2 linked regions of the Homo sapiens genome follow. The protein of the gene in region 1 purifies or fractionates together with the protein of each later gene. This does not show direct contact. Each region holds a gene or a part of one and is shown in the gene's direction. Other genes may lie near its edges. The genes, in order: EIF2A and EIF2AK3.

Region 1 (17,734 bases):
AATACTGTCAAGAAATTACTAGAAACAAAGACAGTGTAGTAGATAACTTCACAAAGGAGGAGAGTTACACAGCAGTAGGGGAAAAAAGGTGTTGGGGTTCGTCCCTCACAGAAAAAAGTTTTTTATAAGTAAAAATTTATATATAAATTATACTTAAAGAATATTTATTAGCTTTCCAAAAAAACCTTCACCTTTTAAAATGCGTTCGTTGGTCCGGTGTGGGGGTTTCGATCTGTAATCTCAGCACTTTGGGAGACCGAGGCGGGTGGATCGCCTGAGCTCAGGAGTTTGAGACCAGCCAGGGCAACATGGTGAGACCCCATCACTACTAAAAATGCAAAACAAATAGTTGGGCATGGTGGTGTCTGCCTGTGATCCCAGCAACTCGGGAGTGTTGAGGTGGGAAATTCACTTGAGCCCAGAAGGAGGAGGTTGCAGTGAGCTGAGAAATTAAAATGTGTTCATCAAAAACAGTCCCATAATAATTGATATAACTGAATAAACAAAGTTTATTAATGAGAATGAAATTATGCGTAATGAGCACATAGTACCAAAACCAGAAAAAACTCATGATTTATAGTAGTTGTGTGGATTTTTTTCGTCTCAAGTGAAAGGCTCTCAGTGGCTACATGATGCTCATAAGCGTGGAAGAGACTTGTAACTTATCTTTTCTTCTTGTATCATTTTTCATCAAAGTTCTGAGCAGAAACTTTTCGGCCAAAGTAAACTACTACAGAAGAGCCCACTATTGAAAGAATTTTCATATTATGTATAAAACAAATGTTCAGCAAATATTGTATAACTTAAGTAGCATTTTATGCAACATGGATAAAAATGAAATGAAAGAGCCTTGCACTCCAAATTTGTCTGCTGTTCTACAAATGTGGGTTCTCATAATATTCAGTTTGTTTCAAGTAGAATATGAACATACCCAGAACTTTGATGACCTGAAATAGTTAATGCATTTGCTAAGATAAGGTCACTTTATGGTTTCTTATTTATTACTCTGCATCTTAAGTGTTTGAGCTCTGCTCATTTCCATATAGAACTTATAAGTAAAATGCGGATCTGAGACCTAGTACTCAAGAAACTTCATGGAGAGCTGGTACTTTTGATGTGCTGAGTTATGGTACAGTCTAAGAGACAGTTAACATTAAAATAATAGCAATATAGATAGAAATCAGTAAGTACCTGAATCTGATAGAGAGTTGTAGTGCCATCACTTATACTGTATGTTGTCTAAAACTGTTCTGGAGATACATTGAATCTATAATTCACCATCTTTTCTATTGTGGAATATAGTTGTTACATGGTTACATGAATATCTGATGTTGGAAATGATTGTCTTCATTGTGTAATCTGACAAGCCATGTAATTTTTTTTTGGTCTCTTCATATGTCAATCCCAGATTTGTAATTATCTAGTTAATTACTCCTTTCTATTTCATTTATTTTCTTATAATCTATTCTTGTTTTTTCATTTGCTTTTATTTTTAATCTTCTAATTTCTGATTTTACAAGTAAAGATCTAGCAAGTAATTCTTTGTGTGAAGAAAACAAGCGAGGCAACTGGGTTTCTGTTGACAATAGTTAGAACCAAAAAGGCCTCAGAAGAAGCTGTTGTTGGTATCTAGTTTTCATAAGAATCATGTGTCTGTAGTAGTGCTAAGAAAAATTCTGTTTGAACAAAACTAAAGTGAATTTTGCCAGCTCTGATATGATTGAAAGATATAGGAACTAATAGGAAGACCCTAATTAAATCCATCCTGACAGTTGGAGTGTGCCACTACCAATGAGTTTCAAAATAATCTTTGCTAATGATCTTAAATTTGATAAAATAAGTTTATCCTATATTAGCAGAAGTGTATAATTTGTTGTTGTAGGTGTTTACAACATGGACTCCATTTCAAAATTATTTTACATTTTCCATAGCATGAAGAGGAACCACCTCAGAATATGAAACCACAATCAGGAAACGATAAGCCATTATCAAAAACAGCTCTTAAAAATCAAAGGAAGCATGAAGCTAAGAAAGCTGCAAAGCAGGTATTTGGGGCACTAATCTCATAACAAAACAAATAGTCAGTTATGGCCGGGCGCAGTGGCTCACGCCCGTAATCCCAGCACTTTGGGAGGCTGAGGCGAGTGGATCACTTGAGGTTAGAAGTTCAAGACCAGACTGGCCAACGTGGTGAAACCCTGTCTCTACTAAAAATTCAAAAATTAGTTGGCCATGGCTTATAATCTCAGCTACTCAGGAGGCTGAGGCAGGAGAATTACTTGAACCTGGGAGGTGGAGGTTGCAGTGAGCCATGATCGCATCACTGCACTCTAGCCTTCCAGCCTGTGCGACAGAGAGAGACTCCATCTCCAAAAAAAAAGGCAGTTAAGTTAGCTTTAAGCCTTAAAGTTTAAAGAATTGTGGTCCTAAATACTTGACTGTGACCAGGTGTGGTGGCTCATGCCTGTAACCCAGCACTTTGGGAGGCCAACGTGGGAGAATTGCTTGAGCCCAGTTCGAGACCAGCCTGGGCAACATAGTGAGACCCCCATCTCTATGAAAAATTTTTTGCTGGGCACAATGGCGTGTACCCCGTAGTCCCAGCTGCTTGGGAAGCTGAGATGGTAGGATCACTTGAGCTTGGGAGGTTGAGGCTGCAGTGAGCTGTGATTGTACCACTTCAGCCTGAGTAACAGAGCAAGACCATGACTCGAAAAAAAAAGAAAAAAAGCACAAAAAACCTTGGCTCTTACGTTATAAAATGTAGTTGGAGTTAGACTTAAATAGGCAGAATATCTTTCTTTTGTCTTTGCCTATGAATTTCTAAGTAATCCTGTCTATATGATGGGTGACAAAAGAAACTGGACTTGACATCATAACCTGAGACACTAATGGTATTATGTAAGCATGTTACTTGCTGTAGACCCTTTTGGTGGCACTTGTGTGAAGTGGTGTAGTTTGCTTTCCTTGAAGCATGTATTTACTAAGAGAAGCTGGAAATTACATGACTAGAAAGCCATTTGGGCACTCAGTATTATAGTACTATATGAAATTATTTAACTGGGAATCGAAATACCAGAAGTACCCAAATAATGGGATATTTCCAAAATAGTTTCTTACTTGATTACGTAGTTGAAAAGCCACACCAGTGTAAATAATTGACAAATTGTGATATTGTATAGCTCATGGTGATAATGTGATTGGCTGGGCTGGGGATGTCTGGTTAGTGAAGTTATGGTGATCACATTTTTGCAATTCAGGTAGAGTACATGTCTCAATCCATTCAGGCTGCTACCTTATACTAGGTAATTCATAAACAAATTTATTGCTCACAGTTCTAGAAGCTGGGGCGCTGGCAGATTTGGTATCTGGTGAGAACCCGTTCATCATAGATGGCACCTTCTTTCTGTGTGTCCTCCCATGGTGGAAGGGGCAGTGGAGCTCTCTTTGGTCTCTTTTATAAAGCTACTAATCTCATTCTTGAGTGTGGAATCCTCATGACTTAATCATTTTCCAAATGCCCCACCTTTTAATACTATTACATTGGGTATTAGGTCCCAAACTATGAATTTGAGGGAAACACCAATATGTCAGACTGTAGCAGTGGGGTAGGGTTTTTGGATGTTTTGTTTTTGTTTCTTTTGAGACACTCTGTCTCACTCTGTTATCTAGGCTGGAGTGCAGAGGCATGATCACGGCTCACTGCAACCCCAGACCCTGAGCTCAACTAATCCTGCCTCAGCTTCCCAAGTAACTAGGACTGTACATGTACACCACCATTCCCAACTAATTTTTTTATTTTTGTAAAGATAGGTTATCGCTATGTTTTTCAAGCAGGAAATGGGAGTAGGTTTTTTTGGTTTGGTTTTGGCTTGGTTTTTTTTTTTGAGACCGAGTTTTGCCATGTTGCCCAGGCTAGTCGCAAACTCCTGAGCTCAAGCAGTCTTTCCACCTCAGCCTCCCAAAGTGCTTGGATTACAGGCGTGAGCCACTGTGCCCATCCTAGAAAGGGCAGATTTTTAACAGCTGGTTGCTATATCAGTATAGTCTTGCTGATAATTCTTGAATTTTGACAGGTCTAGGCTGGTTATGTGTTTTGGGAGGCAGTTACTATTTTAAGGTATAGAATTGTATTATGCAACCATATTCTGCTAAAATCTGGACTTTTAGAAAAACCATTCTGTTCATTTGTAGTTAATATGTTTCATCCCCAGAAGTATCTTAATTGGTCAGCTTTAGGTTATTCCAAGTAAAAATGATCTATTCCATGCATTTGATATTAGATTTGTATAAAAGCAAGTCTTGTCCCTTCATCAGTACAAGTAGGGACCTCTACTGGCCCTGGATATTACAACTCATTAGTAGTATCCTTAACAACTTGATAACTAAGATGCCCTTTGAGTTTTAGGGCCTCTCTGAAACGCACTCAACTTAGAATTCTATTTTTATAAGCAAAGTTTCTTCCACTTTATCAAAAGATATTTTTAATATGACCATTGGTGATACTGGACTAAGATTCCTTTATACTTATTATATAAATAATTACTTACATAATTACATATGATTATAATTATTAATAATTATAACCATTAATTAATATACTAAATTATAATTGTATTAATTATATAAATAATATACAAATTCTATTAGTTTATACATTTTATAATATAAATTATGTGATAATTTCACATTTAATTAATATAATGAAATTATTATTATAAATAATAGTTATTTGTAACTCTGTTATAAATGTGTAACTCTTTATAGCTCATGGTAATAGTGTGATCAGCTGGGCTGATCAGTTATAAATTTACAACTCTCAGTTATATGTTTATACCTGTCAGTTTTTTTTAAAAGAGCCAATACAGTCATCAAGCACCTACACACGTTTTTTACTAAAGATGATACCAAAGGTGATACCAGTAATCCCTCATTGTGGAATTGCTTTTTGAGTTGTTTTTCCAGTAATAGCAAAGGTTTTCAACTTGCAAGATAAACTATTCAGTATGTATTTTGGGGACGACTGGCTGAAGTTAGTAAAAGTTGTGGCTGTGTGATGGAACAAAGCTAAATGGCCCTTGACAGAATCTCACCTTATCCAGACCTTCTTAGTCCTGACTCTGAAGTAAATAGTCAAAGATAGAGCAGTCAGATATATGTAATCTAACTAGTATTTTTGTAAACTGGTGATAATTTTATAAGTTTGTTGACTTTACCAAAAAAGAGTTGAAACATAAGAATTTAATCTTACCATATATACGTCCTTTCTAGAGAATGGCTAGAATTTAAGTATAATAATGCAGACATTTCAACTTGTTCTTGGTTAGTTTGTGGGGAAAAATAAATTTTATATATCACTTAATTTTAATGGTTTTTCACATGATAAGATTAACCTTTCTTCCTAGAGAGCTATATTCTTAGCTCATTACAAACAACTAAAATTTTATATTTTTAAAATCTGATATCAAAAGTGAATTTTGATAGGCAGAATATCCCCTCTTCTTTTATTTACTCTTCTACTTTAATTTTATATTGTGAAAAATATAAAACTGCCTATTACCAGAACTTACAGGCTCCTTAAGAGGAGAAACTTAATATTTTCTTTCGAATTCTCAAAGTGCCCAGTAATTTGTTTTCATGTAGAAGGTAAATAATTGTTTATTAAATAGTACCAAAAAGTGAAACCAACATGACTTTAAAAAGAAAAATTGGCTGGATGCAGTGGCTCACACCTGTAATCCCAGCACTTTGGGAGGCCGAGGTGGGTGGATCACCTGAGGTCTGGAGTTCGAGATCAGCCTGTCTAACATGGTGAAACCCCATCTCTACTAAAAATACAAAATTAGCTGGGTGTGGTAGCAGGTGCCTGTAACTGTAATCCCATCTACTTGGGAGGCTGAGGCAGGAAAATCGCTTGAACCCGGGAGGTGGAGGTTGCAATGAGCTGGAATCGTGCCACTGCACTCCAGCCTAGACTCTGTCTCCAAAAAAAAAAAAAAAGAGAAAAATTGACTTCAATTCTGTATTTTCTAAAAACTCTTAGGCAGACTTTTAGAGTTGAATATCTAGAAGTGATACCCTATTCTATGTTCCCTGAGGATCTGAGGATGCTTTAAAAGTTCAGAGTATCCTACCCAGAACTCTGAGTAAAAGGTTATGGAGACCTGGAGCATTATATATATATTCCACTGGAAATTCTATAAGAAGTAGAAACCCTACGTTGGAGCCAATAAATACTTACATAATTTTTTCCCCTCTTACCAAAATATATATCTTGTCATAATTATAAAGGAAGAGTCATTCCTTTATTTTTTATTTATTTAGCCTGTGCAACGAAGCAAGTATTATGCTAGAGGCTCAGTTCTAATGGGGAATGGTAGAATATGGTGTTACCGTAGGGAAAAATACTGGGCATTATGAGAGCCTGGGAAAGGTGCGACTATCCAGTCTTAAGGTGGGGAGATTTTCCAGAAGACTTAAAGGATAAGTAGGGTTCAGCCAGGTGACTTGTGGGGGAAGGTGTTCTAGGCACAAGGAACAATATATAGTAGTCTCCCTTTATCCTGGAGGGGCAGAGCTATGCCTGAAACCACAGATAGTACCGAACCCTATAGAGACTGTGATACACAGTAAGAGATTAACAGTAACTCATAAGAAAATAGAGCAATTATAATAATATACTGTAATAAAAGATATGTGAATATGGTCTCTCAAAATATCTAATGGTGTTGTATTCACCCTTTTTGCGACAATGTGAGATGGTACAATGCTTGTGTGGTAAGTTGAATGACCACGGCTATAACTTGCAGTTCAAGGCGCAACTGCAAAACTAGCACTAATCTCTTTTTTCTTCTTCCCAAGTTCATGGATAGGTTTAATCTTACTGTAAATCATAGCAAATCAGCATACAATATTTTTTATTCCTTATTAAGAACTTTCACCTTTTCACTTAAAGGGAGCACTTTACGGCTTCTCTTTGGCATATCCGAATTGCCAGCATCACTACTCTGCACTTTGGGACCATTATTAAGTAAAATAAGGGTTACTTAAACACAACTACTGTTGATACTGTGACAGTCGATCTGATAACCAACACAGCTACTAGTGAAAAATAGGTGGGGAGCGAATACACTGTGGATACACTGGATAAAAGAATGATTCTCGTTCTAGGCAGGATGCTGAGAGATTTCATCACACAGCTTAAAACTTATGAATTGTTTATTTCTGGGATTTTCCATGTAATATTTTTGGGCTGCAGTTGACGCTTGGTTACTGAAACCATGGTTAAGGGAGACTGCTGTACACAAAGGCCAGGGGCAAGAGTATACAGCACCTTAGCGGAAATAAAAGTGATTCAGAATCAGTGAGGAGGGACAAGAAAAGTTATCAGAGGTCTGATCATATTGGAAGCATTATGGCATCCCTTTAAGGGGAAAAAAGTTTTGTGGTACTTTGTTGCAGAGCTGAATTGATCTGATTATAAATTAATATCTGTAGGATTCTTATTCTTGTAGCATAATCCATTACAGGTACTTGATCATACATATTCTTTATAGTTTTGGAGAGAGCCTTGTAAGAGTGAAACTTTAAACACCTTAAATAGAAAAGCCCTCTCATATGTTCAAACCATCTATCTACTGGCACATCTCAGAATATGCAAAAGTTTGGAATGCTTGTTGGCTGGTACAGAAACTTCCTGGTTTACTCTGATAAGGTCATTTTATTTCTAACATGGGAGTATGTAGCATACTTCATGAGACCTTTAATTCAGATTCTTTATATAAAATGTAGATAAAATCACATATTTAGTTTCTGTATTTCATATGCCAAAGCTATGTTGATTTAAATACTGTAATGTTTTTGGCTTTTAAAATTGAATTTAAAAAAATATTTCCTGCAGGAAGCAAGAAGTGACAAGAGTCCAGATTTGGCACCTACTCCTGCCCCACAGAGCACACCACGAAACACTGTCTCTCAGTCAATTTCTGGGGACCCTGAGATAGACAAAAAAATCAAGAACCTAAAGAAGGTGAGAGACTTAAAAACAGATGTGCATATTGAAAGGTATACATGAAAATTATATAAGTAAGAGAGTACTTAGATGCCTAAAGACAGGTATCTAAGAAGTTGGTATCAGCAGTTCTCATTGTTGTTTTCTCACTATGAAGCACTGTTCACTTAGGAATGGTATTGATTTTAGTTCTATTCATAAATGTCTGAAGACTCTTAGTACTTTGATTTTTGGAGTAATAAAATTCAGTGTGCATCAGCATAGAAATATACTGAACACTTTTTTTTTTTGAGACGGAGTCTTGCCCTGTTGCCCAGGCCGGAGTACAGTGCCACAACCTTGGCTCACTGCAACCTCCGCCTCCCAGGTTCAAGCGATTCTCCTGCCTCAGCCTCCCGAGTAGCTGGGACTACAGGTGTGCGCCACCACGCCTGGCTAATTTTTATATTTTTAGTAGAGACAGGGTTTCACCATGTTGGCCAGGCTGGTCTCAAACTCCTGCCCTCAGGTAATCCACCCGCCTCGACCTCCCAAAATGCTGGGATTTGTGAGCCTCCTCGCCTGGCCACTGAACACTTTTTAATTTAATTTAATTTTTTTTTTTGAGACAGAGTCTTGCTCTGTCGACCAGGTTGGAATGCAGTGGCGCGATCTCGGCTCACTGCAAGCTCCGCCTCCCGGGTTCAGGCCATTCTCCTGCCTCAGCCTCCCGAGTAGCTGGGACTACAGGCGCCTGCCACCACACCTGGCTAATTTTTTGTATTTTTAGTAGAGACGGGGTTTCACCGTGTTAGCCAGGATGGTTTCAATCTCCTGACCTCATGATCTGCCTGTCTCAGCCTCCCAAAGTGCTGGGATTACAGGTGTGAGCCACTGCACCTGGTCACTCAATACTTTTATACTCAGTATTTCATTAGATACCTTGTGATAATTAGGGGCAGATATTTATCCTAGTTTTGAAGATGAAGAGACAGAGACAAAAAAGAAGTGTATTGATTTGTGATATTGCAGCCAGTGTGCTGGGGTGGCCCTGGGGATAAAAAAAGGTCTCTAGAGCCCTTCACAGCTGCATTATGAGGTTTCTCTTTCATTCACTTTTTATCGGGCAGGACTTTGGACCAACAATCTTTCAGAATGCTCTCATTGAGATTTCTCTCAAAGCCAGAAACATCACCCAGGTCCAATGGGGCATTGAAATGTGCCATTACTGATACATTTATATATACACATGCATACACGATAACATTAATTAAAAGCCTGAGAATAATATTTTGCCAAATCTCATGTTTTTAACATTTACAATTTTGCATTTAACTTTAAAAAACAATTTATCCTAGCATTTTAACAGACCATTGTTGATACAAATCTAAGATAATTAATCTCCTTACTTGAGTTTCACATTCTTAATAAGGAAATTTGCATTTGAAGTGACTTTTCTTCCATGCTCTTGACTCATATTTGATGTTTGCAGAAACTGAAAGCAATCGAACAACTGAAAGAACAAGCAGCAACTGGAAAACAGCTAGAAAAAAATCAGGTACTTTCTGCATTTTTCATTTAGGCTTGTGGTGACCACCAGCCTTCCCCCTTTTATTATAAACAAGTATTTAGTCAGGTAAAAGAGCACATGGAGTTTAAAAACTTATTTTGAAAACCATATGCCATATTCTTTTTAATGTTTTTACTTTTAAATAGCTTTACTCTTAAATAGAAGAGATATGGTATTGATCATGTGAATGAAAAAGTCAATATTCCTAAGAGGCATACTATGTTATTACTGCTGAAAATAATAGCAATTTGTTATATTAGACAAATATAAGATTCTCTCAAGTTGTACTGCCCTGTTTGCCTTTTCCCTCCTCCTGTCAACATGTTTAAGCCCGAATATAGAATTGAAAATTTTTGGGGCCCAAAGGGATGCAGTAAGACAGTGTCTGTTCTTTTCACCCTCGATTCATACCAGATAACAAATTAGAATTTGTTTCTAACCTGTATTTTAAAATCTGTGTTTACTAGTGAACATAATAAATTGTCAGAAATACCATTTTTTCTGTATTATTTTGGTTACATATCCAGTAATTATTTCATAATAACTTCATTGTTTCAAACTTTTCTAGTTGGAGAAAATTCAGAAAGAAACAGCCCTTCTCCAGGAGCTGGAAGATTTGGAATTGGGTATTTAAAGATTCACGGAAAGCAAGTTGATGACCAGAAATCAGTGCAAACACATCTTCTGTTAAACCCATTGGTATACACAGAATATTCCTGTGCCCACACTTAATGTCAATCTATAATTTTAACCATTTATCCAAGATTCTACTAAGTGTAAAATTATTTAATAATGTCTATTAAATTGATATTTATATCTTGCATCCTATATCATGTCAATATGTGATATAGAAAAGAGATACGTGAATTTTTTAGCTAAGCTTGACAGATTGAAAGACAAGTGTCATTTTTTTTTGTAGAGGGTGATATATACCATGTAAATGAACAAAGACATTTTAAATTTAATCACTGTTTTTATTATAAGTTCCTTAGTTCAGATATCCTTTATTAATTTATAAGATGTGTAAAACTACTTAATTCTCACAAGACTCTATGAAGTAATTCTTTTAATCTCTATTTTATAAATGAAAAAACTAAGGCCATAAATTTAAGAAATTTGTCAGTGTCTCAAAGCTAGGAAATGGCCATCTAATCCCAGAGCCTATGCTTTAGGTCACTATGATATATACTACTCCTGTATCCTCAAGTAATGTATCATTTAGTAACACTAAGCACCCTGCTTAGTTTTCATGGATACTGCCAAATTGCCCTATCTCAAGCTTTATACTTGCACCATTTAAAGTTTTCCACACTGTTGGCAATATCAGAAGTGATAAGGCTTTGAAATGTTCGCCACTTTGATAAAGAGGAAATGATTGTTTGTTACTGTTATATACATGTATTTTTATCAGAGATGGGTTATGTACTTTTCCACGTTTGATAGTTGGTTGTATTTCTTTAGTGAATTGATTTTTCTTTTCCTTTGCCCATTTTTCTGTTTGGATGTTTGACTTTCTTCTTAATTTGTAAGAGTATCCTATGTAGTAACAAAATCCTTTTTTAAAAATTTTTAAAGAAAAAGTATACACACAGGACTTTTTTTTTTCTAATTCAAAAAATACAAAGGCATGCAATGAAAATTAAGTCTGTTCCACTACCACATTTTCCAGTTTTTTGTGTATCTTTCTAATGATAGATACCATATGAGTATTCAAATATACATACACATACACTTAAAAAAAAAAGATGGCATATACTAACTGTTCTGTTTGGGGCTTTTTGGTGGTGGTGTTTGTTTGACAGGGTCTCACTCTGCCTCCCAGGTTGGAGTGCACCTTGAACTCCTGGACTCAAGTGATCCTTCACCTCCTCCTTCCAAGTATCTGACACTACAGGCTTGCATCACTATGCCCAGCTTATACTCACCATAGTGGTTCTGTACTCCCTTAAAATATTCTGGAGGCCAGGCATGCTGGCTCACACCTGTAATCCCAGCACCTTGGGAGGCCAAGGTGGGTGGATCACCTGAGGTCAGGAGTTCAAGACCAGCCTGATCAACATGGTGAAACCCCATCTCTACTAAAAATACAAAAGTATCCAGGCGTGGTAGCACATACCTGTAATCCCAGCTACTTGGGAGGCTGAGGTAGGAAAATTGTTTGAACCCGGCAGACAGAGGTTGCAGTGAGCCGACATCGTGCCATTGCACTCCAAGCCTGGGCAACAAGAGTGAAACCGTCTCACACACACACAAAAAAAAATATTTTGGAGCTCCTTCTATATGAGTCTCTCTCTCTTATCTCTCTCAGGATGTGTGTATGTGTTTGTTTCTCTGGAAAACCCTGACTAATACAGATTAGCTATGTATTAGGTAATACATAATGCCTAATACATAACTAATATATGGACAGGAAGTTAATAGACTGACTGTGCCACCTTAAAACTCGTATGTTGAAGCCCTAACCTCCAACGTGGTGGTATTGGGAGATGGGCCTTTTGGAAGGTAAGTGTGTTTGAATGAGGTGAAGAGGTTGGGGACTTCGTGATGGGATTATTGTCCTTACAAGAAAAGACACCAGAGAGCTTGTTCTGTCTCTTTGGGCCATGTGAAGACATGGTGAGAAAGCAGCCAGCTGTAAGCCAGAGAGTCCTCACCAGAACCTAACCATGCTGGTGATATCCTCATCTCAGACTTCTAACCTCCAGAACTGTGAGAAAATAAACTTCTTTGTTTAAACCACCTAGTCTGGTATTTTGTTACGGCAGCCTGAGCAGACCAATATAGATTGTATAAATTTCAGTTTGTTTAAAAGGACAGGCCGGGTGTGGTGGCTCACGCCTATAATCCCAGCACTTTGGGAGGCAGAGGCGGGCGGATCACAAGGTCAGGAGATCGAGACCATCCTGGCTAACACAGTGAAACCCCGTCTCTACTAAAAATACAAAAAATTAGCCGGGCGTGGTGGCGGGTGCCTGTAGTCCCAGCTACTCGGGAGGCTGAGGCAGGAGAATGGCCTGAACCCGGGAGGCGGAGCTTGCAGTGAGCCGAGATCGTGCCACTGCACTCCAGCCTGGGCAACAGAGCGAGACTCCGTCTCAAGAAAAAAAAAAAAAAAAAAAAAAAGTAAAGGACAACTAATGAATCAAGGAAGACTTTATGGGAAAAAGTAAGATTTAACATGCTCTAAATAGAAAAATGGTTTGCTTTTTTTTTTTAAGGTTTAACGTGTTTATCATGGTTGGCAGCTAAGTAGAGGAAGAGCCAAGTCCAGAATCTAACATTTGGACTTCCCCTCATTTAAACAGTGGCGTTTTGCCACGTTGCCCAGACTGGTCTCAAACTCCTCAGCTCAAACAATCTGCCCACCTCGTCCTCCCAAGATGCTGGGATTACAGTCATGAGCCACTGCAGCCAGCCTACATTTTTAAATGGTTGGAAAATCAAAAGATTATTTGATGACATGTGAAAATGGTATAAAACTGTGAAATCTATTGTCCATAAGTAAAGTTTTCTTTGAACACATCCATGCTCACTCGTTAACTTATTTTCCATGGCTGCTTTCATGCTGCAACTGCAGAGTTGAGTATTTCCAACAGGTCATGTTTTTGCAATGCCTAAAACATATACTCTCTGGCATTTTACAGAAAAATATTGCTAATTCCTTTGTATTCTGTAGAAGAATACAAAATAACATGGAAATAACCACATAATTATGTTGCTTCTTGTATTCTCCACTATATAAACTCCTAGAAGTGGAATTCTTGAGTCATGTCACATTAGAAAATTTAGGCCAGGCACTAATTTAGGCTCATGCCTGTAATCCCAGCACTTTATAAGACTGAGGCTGGAGGATCACTTGAGCCCAGAAGATTGAGGCTGCAGAGAGCCATGATCATGCCACTACACTCCAGCCTGGGTGACAGAGAAAGACCCTGCCTCCAAAACAACAACAAAATGTAAATACTTTTTGTTGTTACTATTATCATCATCATCTTTATTTTACTTGCTGATTTTCTCCTTCACTATGTTTGGGGTTTTTTTACTCAATTTATTTTCACATTTGGTACTGTTATTACTCTGAGACTGTTGTTTTTATTTAGTGGAAGCATAATCAAGTTAAGTGAATCAGATGTGACTCCGCAATTGGCATTTTAACATCTAAATTTGGGACAGAGTCTTGCTCTGTTACCCAGGCTGGAGTGCAGTGGCTCGATCTCAGCTCACTGCAACCTCTGCCTCCTGGGCTCAAGCAATTCTCGCGCCTCAGCCTCCGAGTAGCTGAGATTACGGGCATGCACCACCACGCCTGGCTAATTTTTGTATTTTTAGTAGTAGAGACGGGATTTCACCATGTTGGCCAGGCTGGTCTCCAACTTCTGGCCTCAAGTGATCCGCCTGCCTCGGCCTCCCAAGCTTTGGGATTACAGGCATGAGCCACTGCTCCTGGCCTTAAACTTTGTTTAAAAAAAGAAATAAAGCAATGGGCCAGATTGGTTTTGACACAGATTGAACAATTTAAACATTTATTGCTCAAAAGATTAATGAAGATCATGGGCCACTAATCTGCTTCAGACAAACTGTTAAACCAGTTTTTAAAAAACTAAATTGAACATTTTCTGAATTTATACCCCTTGCCAAGTAAAAAATAATACACATACATTCCAAAATAAATTTAATATCAGAAATTCTGTGATGTTTATGTTGCAATCCAAAAAGGTGAAAAGGTAAGATGTTGAGTTTTCCAAAAGTAAATTATAAGGTGAGCATTTTATCCTTGGCTTTTCAGCTCTCTATGGAAAGATACAATCCATTAATAGTCATAGACCTGCTGACTGTCTGTAACCCCTGCGTCAGATCAGTGGTAAGTCATAGGCCCAGCCATAACATTACACCTCTTCAGGGACAGCTTAGCCCTGTAGAGTCGATGAGGTTAAGTGGCAGGCGTGGACACGGCGGCAGTTGTGAAGAGCTGCTTACACCAAAGCCTTGCCCGGAATGCAGGGCTGATTGCCTGCTCACAGTTGGTCTTGTGACTGACAAGTGTCCTGTTAGTGTCGTTGTAGGATGACAGGGGCCTCACAATTTCCAAAAAAAATTATTCTGTAGGGGAGGAGCATTTTTCTACTCTTCAGGACTTTGAGGAGGTCTACATCATCTGAGGCTCAGTACTGTCTTTGGAAAGCAGTTTGCAGGACTGCAACCAGAGGAAATGCTTCAACCATTTGTTCTCTGCACCTGGGGGAAGAAAGTCTTTGCCCTGAAGTGTGATAGCCAGTGATCTAATCAGCTACAGTTATGTGCCACATAAAGACGTTTTTGTCACTGACAAACTGCAAATATGATAGTGGTCCCATAAGCTTATAATGGAGCCGAAAAATTCCTATCTCCCAGTGGCATGATAGCCTTGTAATGCCCTAGCACAACATATTACTCACTTGTTTGTAGTGATGCTGTTTGTAAACAAACCTGTGCTGCCAGTCCTATAAAAGTCTAGCACTTACAATTATGTACAGTACATAATACTGGATAATTATAAATGACTGTTCCTGGTTTATGTATTTACTATACTATACTTGTTATTTTAGAGTGTACCCCTACTTTAGAAAGTTAACTGTAAAACAGCCTCAGGCATGCCCTTCAGGAGGAGTTCCAGAAGGCACTGTTACTGTAGGATATGACAGCTCCATGTGTGTTATTGCCCCTGAACACCTTCCAGTGAGACAAGATGTGGAAGTGAAGACAGTGATATTGATGATCCTGATCAATAGCCCCTACATGGCTGGGGCTAATGTATGGGTTTGTGTCTTTAAAAGTTAAAAAAAAAAAAATTAGAGGAAAGCTTTTAGAGCAAGGATATAAAGAAAAAATATTTTCGTACAGCTGTATAATGTGTGTGAATGTGTTTTTTGGTTTTTGTTTTGAAACAGGGTCTCATTCTGTCACCCAGACTGGAGGGCAGTGGCACAATCTTGGCTCACTGCAACCTCTGCCTCCCAAGCTCAAGGGATCCTCCCAACTCAGGCTCCCAAGTACCTGGGACTACAGGCATGCACCACCGCACTCAGCTAATTTTTTTACTTTTTGTAGAGACGAGGTCTCACTATGTTGCTCAGGCTGGTCTTGAACTCCTGGGCTCAAGGGATCATCCCACCTCAGCCCCCCAAAATGTTGGGATTATAGGCTTGTTCTGGCCAACGTATGTTTTAAGCTAAGTGATATTGTGAGTCAAAAAGTTATATAAAATTAAAAGTTTATAAATTTAAAAAGTTACAGTAAGCTAAGGTTAATTGATTATTAAAACAAGAAAAATATTTTTAGCATAGCCTAAGTGTACAGTGTTTATAAAGTCCATAGTAGTGTACACTAATGCCCCTGGCCTTCATGTTCACTGACCACTCACTCACTGACTTGCCCAGAGCAACTTCCAGTCCCACAAACTCCATTCAAGTTAAGTACCCTATATGGGTGTACCATTTTTTATCTTTTATGCCATATTTTTACTGTACCTTTTCTACGTTTACATATGTTTAGATAGACAAATATTTACCACTGCTTACAGTATCAATACAGTAACATATTGTATTGCTTAGGAGCAATAGGCTATACCATCTAAGTTTATGTAAGTACACTGTATGTTCACACAGTGAGGAAATCGCCTAGTGACACATTTCTCAGAACCTATCCCTGTTAAGTGACACACGGCTGTTCTTGAGCTGCTGCTTCATAGGCCACTCCCTCCCTCTGTAATGCTCTGTTTTGTTCTTGGAATCTCTCGAGTACTTCACATCTCCAAACTTCATTTCACCGCGGGTATATTGTGGAAATTATAGGTAAACCAATTAGTATGAATCCATCTACTTTCTGTTTTCTAGAGTTTTTAATACAGTTTCTGAACCACTGGTCCTTCTTTCCTGGAGGTATTGCAGTTTCTGGACCACTGGTCCTTCTTTCTTTTCAGTGTTGCCACAAAATTATTGCTTGTACCACTTTCCTGTCATGTCACTCAGATCCTAAGAAGGGGGAGGCAGATGCATGTGCTTAGTCTGTTGTCTTAAATTGGAAGTCAGACAAGCACACTTCTAAAGGTTTTTTGTATTTGATAATATATGTATACATTTTGAGACTGGGTCTTGCCTTGTTGCCTAGGCTGGAGTGCAGTGACATGATCACGGCTCACTGCTCAAGTGATCCCCCACCTCAGCCTCCCCAGTAGCTGGGACTACAGGCATGCACCACCATGCCCAGCTAATTTTTGTATTTTTTGTAGAGACAGGATTTCGCCATGTTGCCCAAGCTGGTGTCAAACTCCTGGGCTCAAGCAATCCACCGATCTCAGCCTCCTGAAGTGCTAGGAGTACAGGCATGAGTCACTACATCCAGCATATATATATACACACGTATATGTGTGTATATATATGTATATGTATATATATGTGTATATATATGTGTATGTATATGTGTGTGTGTATATATATATATATATATATATATATATATTAAAAACATGAATGTAAAAATTAAAAGCATTTTACTTGGTTCACCTAAACCAATTCCTCATACGGACACTAGAGGGTTCTAAGGATCTGGAGTATGGGGAAATTAATGAGGAATTCAAAATTTTAGAACATAACTGGAAAATATGTTCACTCACTTAAAACTTGCCATTTTAGTAGCCTGGATTACTGCTATTTATTTATTTATTTGGAGACAGGGTCTTACTCTGCTGTCTAGTCTGTCTTTTCTCATTGTCAAACTTAACCCTCTTTAGACTTTTGCCATCAGACTTATTCCCACCCTCCTGCTAAACTTGTTCTGTAATAGTGGTCTCTTATTGGTGCAAATGAATCATATTCCAACAGTTTGTTTAGAAGTCAACCATTTGCAGAGAGGACTATGTTTTCCCATTGAAAGAATATTATAAATTGTCATTGGTGTTGAGGTGAGCATTGGTGAAAACCTTAAATGCAAAAACTGGGTATAGGCTCATTAAAAAAAAAAAAAAGTTGAAAATCACTTAAATTTTCAAGAGAATGAGAAGCCACAGAAAATATTTGCAAAAGATGTATCTGATAAAGAGGTATTATCCAAAATATACAAAGAAATCTTAAAACTCCACAGTAAGCAAACAACTTTGTATATTAAAGTTGAAAATTCATTTAAAAATATATAAAAGT
Region 2 (7,000 bases), on another chromosome or scaffold:
TATCACCTAACATACCATATAATTTACTTATTTATTAAGTTGTTTGTCTCGTGACACCAGAGTTTAACCTTCACAAAGGCAGTGATTTGTTTGCTTTGCTCGCTAATCTATCCCAACCATCAGAATGTGCCAGGCCATAGGTAAGCCCTTAATAAGCATTGTTAAAAGAAGGGAGGGCAACCGAGAACACAAAACCAGTAAGCTTACTTACTAGGCTTCTATCTCATTGCAGATTTGAGAAAGCAAATGAAAGAAGGGATGGGACACTACTTGAATCAGTATCTCTAAACCTGTGTTCCTTGGAGCTGAGTCTATGACAGTAATTGGCCTTGATAAAAATAGCCCTAGAAAATACTGCATATATTATCTATTTACACATTAAATATTCATATTACACATATTACACATAATCATGTTACACATTAACATACTAATTGCTATAAGAGCTCCTATAGTAACCTCTTCTTGAACTCACTTGATCATAAAACTCTCTTTTGGTAACTCACCTACCATTATGGGACCCTTTTGGCCCATGGTAAACTGAGTTTGAGAAAAATCTTACTAGAGTACTATGTGTAGGGCCTGGGAGTGATTGGCAGTTCTTTTAAATTACTTTTGGTTGATGGACTGCACTGCTTCATGTGCTACTCAGAAGGAGGCTGGAGTACATCAGGATCAAGACTCCAGCTCTTAATTACTATTATTCTTTTAAAGGTATGATGCTTCTATTTTTCTGGGAGAAATAAGAAAAAAATAATAATTAATGTTATGGCCCTTTTAAAAAGTTAGCTTCTGTTTTAGGTATTTGGGAATAAGATGATCATTCCTTCCCTGGATGGAGCCCTCTTCCAGTGGGACCAAGACCGTGAAAGCATGGAAACAGTTCCTTTCACAGTTGAATCACTTCTTGAATCTTCTTATAAATTTGGAGATGATGTTGTTTTGGTTGGAGGAAAATCTCTGACTACATATGGACTCAGTGCATATAGTGGAAAGGTAAGTGAAAATGCTGAATTTACTTTGGGGAAATCAGAGTAAATTAGGGTAGAAAAAGTAATTTATTAAACTACACTTATTATTAGTTGAGTTTTATTGTAATTTTCCCCTGAGGTTGTCATTTGTTTTAATAAGAGAACTGTGAGGTAGGAAGGGGAAACTAATAACAGAATAAATGGCAGAGCCAGGAATAGCAGGAGGAAGAGAATTCATAAATATGGTCTACTGTGTCTCAGGTGTTTTTTTTTTTTTTTTTTTTTTTGAGACAGAGTCTCACTCTGTTGCCCAGGCTGATCTCAGCTCATGGCAATCCCCACCCCCACCCCATTCCACACCCCCTCAGGTTCAAGTGGGTTCAAGCGATTCTTGTGCCTCAGCCTCCTGAGTAGCTAGGATTACAGGCACATGCCACCATGCTTGGCTAATTTTTGTATTCTTAGTAGAGACAGGGTTTTACTGTATTGCCAGGCTGGTCTCCAGCTTCTGGCCTTAAGGGATCTGCCCACTTCAGCCTCCCAAAGTGCTGGGATTATAAGCAGGAGCCACCATGCCCAGCCTCAGGTTCTTTTTTTTATACATTATTTTGCAATCTTCACAGTCTTCCTAAGTGTAACTTTCGTTTTTTTTTTTTTTTTTTTACATTTTGACAGATGAAGAACCTTATAAAGATTAATAGTAATCCTAATGATAAGAATAATTGATACTACTCATTTATAGGGTTTGATCCTATAATAAGGTGATCCAAGAGGAAAGTTTATACTCATTTTACAGATGAAGAAACTGAGACTTTAAAAGGTTCAGAAACTTCCAGGGTCACATTTAACTTAGATCTATCTGACAACAAAGTCATGCTGTTAATAATCTAGACTTTCTCCAACATTAGCTCTTAGGATATAATCATAATATAATCTGCTTCTAAGATTGGGTCTTATAAATCCATTATCAAGAGTAGCTAATTAAAAGCATCCTTTCAACCAGGCAAGGTGGCTCACACTTGTAATCCTACCACTTTGGGAGGCCAAGGTGGGTGGATCACTTGAGGCCAGGAGTTCGAGACCAGCCTGGCCAACATGGTGAAACCCCATCTCTGCTAAAAATAAAAAAATTAGCTGGGGATGGTGGCGCACGCACGCCTGTAGTCCCAGCTAGTCAGGAGGCTGAGGTACGAGAATCACTTGAACCTGGGAGGTGGAGGTTGCAGTGAGCTGAGATCACACCATTGTGACGTGTAAACGGTTTATATACAGACTTGGACTAAAATAAGGAAGAATAGAAACGTGGTCTTTTTACTCTTGCATTTTTCAACTTTAACAATTCCTTATCTAAGTGTTAGGCCCATAGCACTTTCTTGCTCTTGCAGATGCTTTTCTGCCTTCTCCACCCACCTGCATCTGCATTGTGTTGAGGAGGCCATGCCATCCTATCTGGCCGTTTTTTGAGCAAAGCACTTCAATCTCTGTTTACTTCGGTAGTCTCATCTGTAAACAACAGGATTGAACCCGATCACCTGGTTTTCCGATTTGATGTGCTGCTACATAATTCTGGTATTGTAGAAGGTATGCTTTTCGTGAGGATTTTAGTTTGGATCATATTAACTCTTCCTTTTTTCTTTAGTGAAAATTTGAGGCAGTTACTTTTGAATACAAAAAGCTCTCAGAAAAGTTTCAAATTTTTAAAAACCAAACACTTTTGTTATACAGAAACTCTAAGGTTGATTTTTTTTTTAACTCACCTGAAATTTTATTAATGATATTGTAGAAAAGCTATCACAAGTAGCTATCCATTTCTTCTTGTATATTCTATGGAAATCTCCAAAGTAAGGCTAAAATTATGTAAATCCTTAAAATCATTCCCTGAAATAAATATTCATTGGTACTGTCATTGTTCTAAATAACTCATTTTAGGAGTTGGTAATCTAACTGATGCTTCTTATGACTTGAGTACTTCATACACATTTCCTTAGTTTCCTTTCACTTTTTAAAAATTACAGATTCCTTTAATATCTCTGATCTATTATGAGTTGTCTCCTTTTACTAATTTTGTATCTAATTTTGTCTTTTCAGGTGAGGTATATCTGTTCAGCTCTGGGTTGTCGCCAATGGGATAGTGACGAAATGGAACAAGAGGAAGACATCCTGCTTCTACAGCGTACCCAAAAAACTGTTAGAGCTGTCGGACCTCGCAGTGGCAATGAGAAGTGTGTATTCAGATAATGTTGCTGTTGGTATTATTTAGAAATACACCTAATACCAAAATTTATCAGATTTCTGTTTGTGGAGATTTTGACTATTTTGTTGCCTTAAAAGCATATATATATATATTTTTTTGATACGGAGTCTTGCTCTGTCGCCCAGGCTTGAGTACAGTGGCGTGATATTGGCTCACTGCAACCTCCACCTCCTGGGTTCAAGCGAATCTCCTGCCTCTGCCTCCCGAGTACCGGGGATTACAGGCACGTGCCACCACACCCAACTAATTTTTGTATTTTTAGTAGAGACGGGGTTTCACCATGTTGGCCAGGCTGGTGTCCAACTCCCGACGTCAGGTGATCCAATGTGGGTCCTAAAATAAAAATGGTTTCATGGTTATTAACAAATTCTGAACTGAACTTCTCACCATATGCTTCGGGATATGATAACCACAGGGGTTCTCATATGATAACTATTAGTTTAGTCTCAGGTTAATGATTTTTTTTTTTTTTTTTTGAGACCGAGTTTCACTCTTGTTGCCCAGGCTGGAGTGCAATGGCATGATCTTAGCTCACCACAACAGCTGCCTCCCGGGTTCAAGCAATTCTCCTGCCTCAGCCTCCTGAGTAGCTGGGATGACAGGCATGCGCCACCATGCCCGGCTAATTTTGTATTTTTAGTAGAGATGGGGTTTCTCCACGTTGGTTAGGCTAGTCTCAAACTCCCAACCTCAGGTGATCCACCCACCTCAGACTCCCAAAGTGCTAGGATTACAGGCATGAGCCACGGTGCCTGGCCTAATGATATTTTTTATAGCAATCTCATCATTCAAAGTTCTTTGAATACAGAAAGATGTTAAGACAAAATTGATGTGTTTCTTTGAGCTTGAACTTATTTGACTCTCTAATTATGTCTAGTAGGTAGTTTCATAGTTTGATTATCTCAATTTTAAAATAATAATCATCTTATTCAATTTTCTTGAAGTATTAAAACATTTATTTAGCCTAATACCTTTCTGTTTCCTTCTTTAAATAATGAACCCCTTATGTAATTTTTATATTTAAATATGTGATTAAAAAATGTGATACCTAGATTAGATACGCTGATTCTACATCAAATGCTTGATTTTTTTTAAACCTAATATTTAAGTTTTAAATTGCCTTTGTAGTAAAAATAACTTTAGATTCCATCTTTATCTTTTGAAAATGAACCAGACTTTCGGGTTTTGTCTGATCCGATGCAGTGTAATTCAGTTTCCTTTCCTGAAAACTGTTTTCTCAAACTCAGTTAAGAATGCATTTATTCTTTCTACTTTGGACTATGAATAGGGCTTTGCATTTACAGACAACTTGACCTTCTTTATCCTGACTGGATTTTGTTTTTTTAAGTGTTTGAGTGCTTACTGGGAGCTCAGCCACCATAGCAGCAGATGTCCAACTTAACAGATTTTTGAGTTACCAGAATAGGAAGGATCTGGGTTTCTAAGATCCATGATTCTTTAAAATATAATTATTTCCATAAATGTCAGAATTCTTAACTATGCCATTTTATATCTAAGTGAAAAGACACAATACTCTCAGTAGTTGAGTGATTTTTCTATTTACTAATTATAGAGGAAACATTATTACTGCCACTTTAGGATAAGACTGCTGAAACTTACTTAGGAAAGGGTAAATGACTTGCCACATCTTGTTCAGTGGAGATCCAAGATTGGGGCTGAGGTATCCTGGATCACATTGCCTTTTTGAGGCCATGTTTTAGTATGAATTTAAGACTGGTGCATTCATCTTGACTTTTACACTGGTTTGTTAGGGCATATTAATTTTGCTGCACTTAATGAAATGTATCCTGCCTTTAATTAAGAGGTAAGGCAGACTGTGTGCTACCTCATTTTAAGGTGACATTGATGTGTTTGGGGAAAATCACTCTGATGTAGAAGTACAAACATTTGTAAGTTTTTGAGAGAAAATCTGTCCCTTAGCTGTTGTAAGGGACACATCAAGTCAGTCCACAACCCTCAAAACCATTGTGTCTGAAGGGTCAGGACAAAGTTCTTGTGGGCCCTCTTGTGGCATAAATCAGTAGAGCACTCTTTTCCAGAAGGTTATGTTGTTAGTTTTCTCATCACATAATTTTAGTATTTGCTTCTTCAATCTAGAAGAGTTCTATATTATTTTGTCCCTTTCTTTAAATGTAAATTTCTAAAACACACCTTTGTAAATTTAAGGTGGAATTTCAGTGTTGGCCACTTTGAACTTCGGTATATTCCAGACATGGAAACGAGAGCCGGATTTATTGAAAGCACCTTTAAGCCCAATGAGAACACAGAAGAGTCTAAAATTATTTCAGATGTGGAAGAACAGGAAGCTGCCATAATGGACATAGTGATAAAGGTTTCGGTTGCTGACTGGAAAGTTATGGCATTCAGTAAGAAGGGAGGACATCTGGAATGGGAGTACCAGGTACCTAACACCACTGAGGATTTAAAATACGGTTCTTCCTCTCCCAGTCTGACCAAACTTATTGATTGGGTGGAACGAAATTACTACTACTTGGGGCTCTCAGCTTGTTCTCTGTGCTTTTATAAATTTGTGATTTTAAATGGTATTTTATGGGTTGGAACTATATAACTACTGCTTGAATTATTTAAGACCTTTTTTCCATTTTTGTTTAGTTTTGTACTCCAATTGCATCTGCCTGGTTACTTAAGGATGGGAAAGTCATTCCCATCAGTCTTTTTGATGATACAAGTTATACATCTAATGATGATGTTTTAGAAGATGAAGAAGACATTGTAGAAGCTGCCAGAGGAGCCACAGAAAACAGTGTTTACTTGGGTGAGTAAATGTATCTTATCTAACGATAGTACACATTGACATCTAGATTTTCTTCTTACATTGTTCCTTCCTACTTCAGGAGTGCCTGTAGTAGTTTTAAATCCTAATATCATCTCTGATGTACGTTGCCCTTGAGATTTATACTTCGATTTCCATTCCTGCTACTTTTCCATTTGTCCAATTCTGAAAATTTTTTTGTTGTTGTTGGAGATGGAGTTTCACTCTTGTCGCCCAGGCTAGAGTGTGATGGCATGATCTCTGCTCACTGCAACCTCCGCCTCCTGGGTTCAAGCGATTCTCCTGCCTCAGCCTCCTAAGTAGCTGGGATTACTGGCACCTGCCACCATGCCCAGCTAATTTTTGTATTTTTAGTAGAGATGGGATTTCACCACATTGGCCAGAATATAGTGCACCTGACCTCAGGTGATCCACCCACCTCGGCCTCCCAAAGTGCTGGGATTACAGGCATGAGCCACCACGCCCAGCCCAATTCTGAAATTTTTAATTACTGTCGCATATTCTTTTTCTCTGAGGTCTATATTAGAAAGGCTTAGAAATATTCTCATTATATAACATGATTTCAAATTACTCATTAGCCAAGAATGGTGGCACGCACCTGTAATCCTAGCTACTCCAGAGGCTGAGATGGGAGGATCGCTTGACCCCAGGAGTTAGAGCCTACCCCAAACTATAATCATGTCACTGCACTCCTGCCTGGGTGACAGGACAACACTCTGTCTGTTTATATATATATAATTATTTATAAGTAATTACATATATGTATTACATATATAATTATTTATATGTAATTACATATAAAATATATAGTTAGGTATATATCCTCAAAGTCTATAATTTTCTGTATTTGTATTTGCATCCATATTAGTTTGTGACCCTCCCCTCTTTAAGATTAGATTTCTTTCTTTTTTATCAGTGCATCTGTACAACTGATCTAAAAAATAAAACTCTGGTGTGCTT

Evidence for each region.
Region 2: the proteins of EIF2A (region 1) and EIF2AK3 purify together in Homo sapiens (affinity purification with western blotting; 2 studies listed by BioGRID and IntAct, with this or other methods). This does not show direct contact.

The regions. Positions count from the first base shown.
Region 1 is NC_000003.12:150,573,718-150,591,451, forward strand, and holds the end of EIF2A (eukaryotic translation initiation factor 2A), read left to right. Parts: intron 1-1,931; coding exon 1,932-2,045; intron 2,046-7,900; coding exon 7,901-8,029; intron 8,030-9,482; coding exon 9,483-9,548; intron 9,549-10,128; coding exon 10,129-10,194; 3' UTR 10,195-12,299; downstream 12,300-17,734. UniProt on the Homo sapiens protein: Functions in the early steps of protein synthesis of a small number of specific mRNAs. Acts by directing the binding of methionyl-tRNAi to 40S ribosomal subunits.
Region 2 is NC_000002.12:88,589,465-88,596,464, reverse strand, and holds part of EIF2AK3 (eukaryotic translation initiation factor 2-alpha kinase 3 isoform 1 precursor), read left to right. Parts: intron 1-801; coding exon 802-996; intron 997-2,406; exon of another isoform or gene 2,407-2,552; intron 2,553-3,059; coding exon 3,060-3,193; intron 3,194-5,412; coding exon 5,413-5,647; intron 5,648-5,859; coding exon 5,860-6,022; intron 6,023-7,000. UniProt on the Homo sapiens protein: Metabolic-stress sensing protein kinase that phosphorylates the alpha subunit of eukaryotic translation initiation factor 2 (EIF2S1/eIF-2-alpha) in response to various stress, such as unfolded protein response (UPR).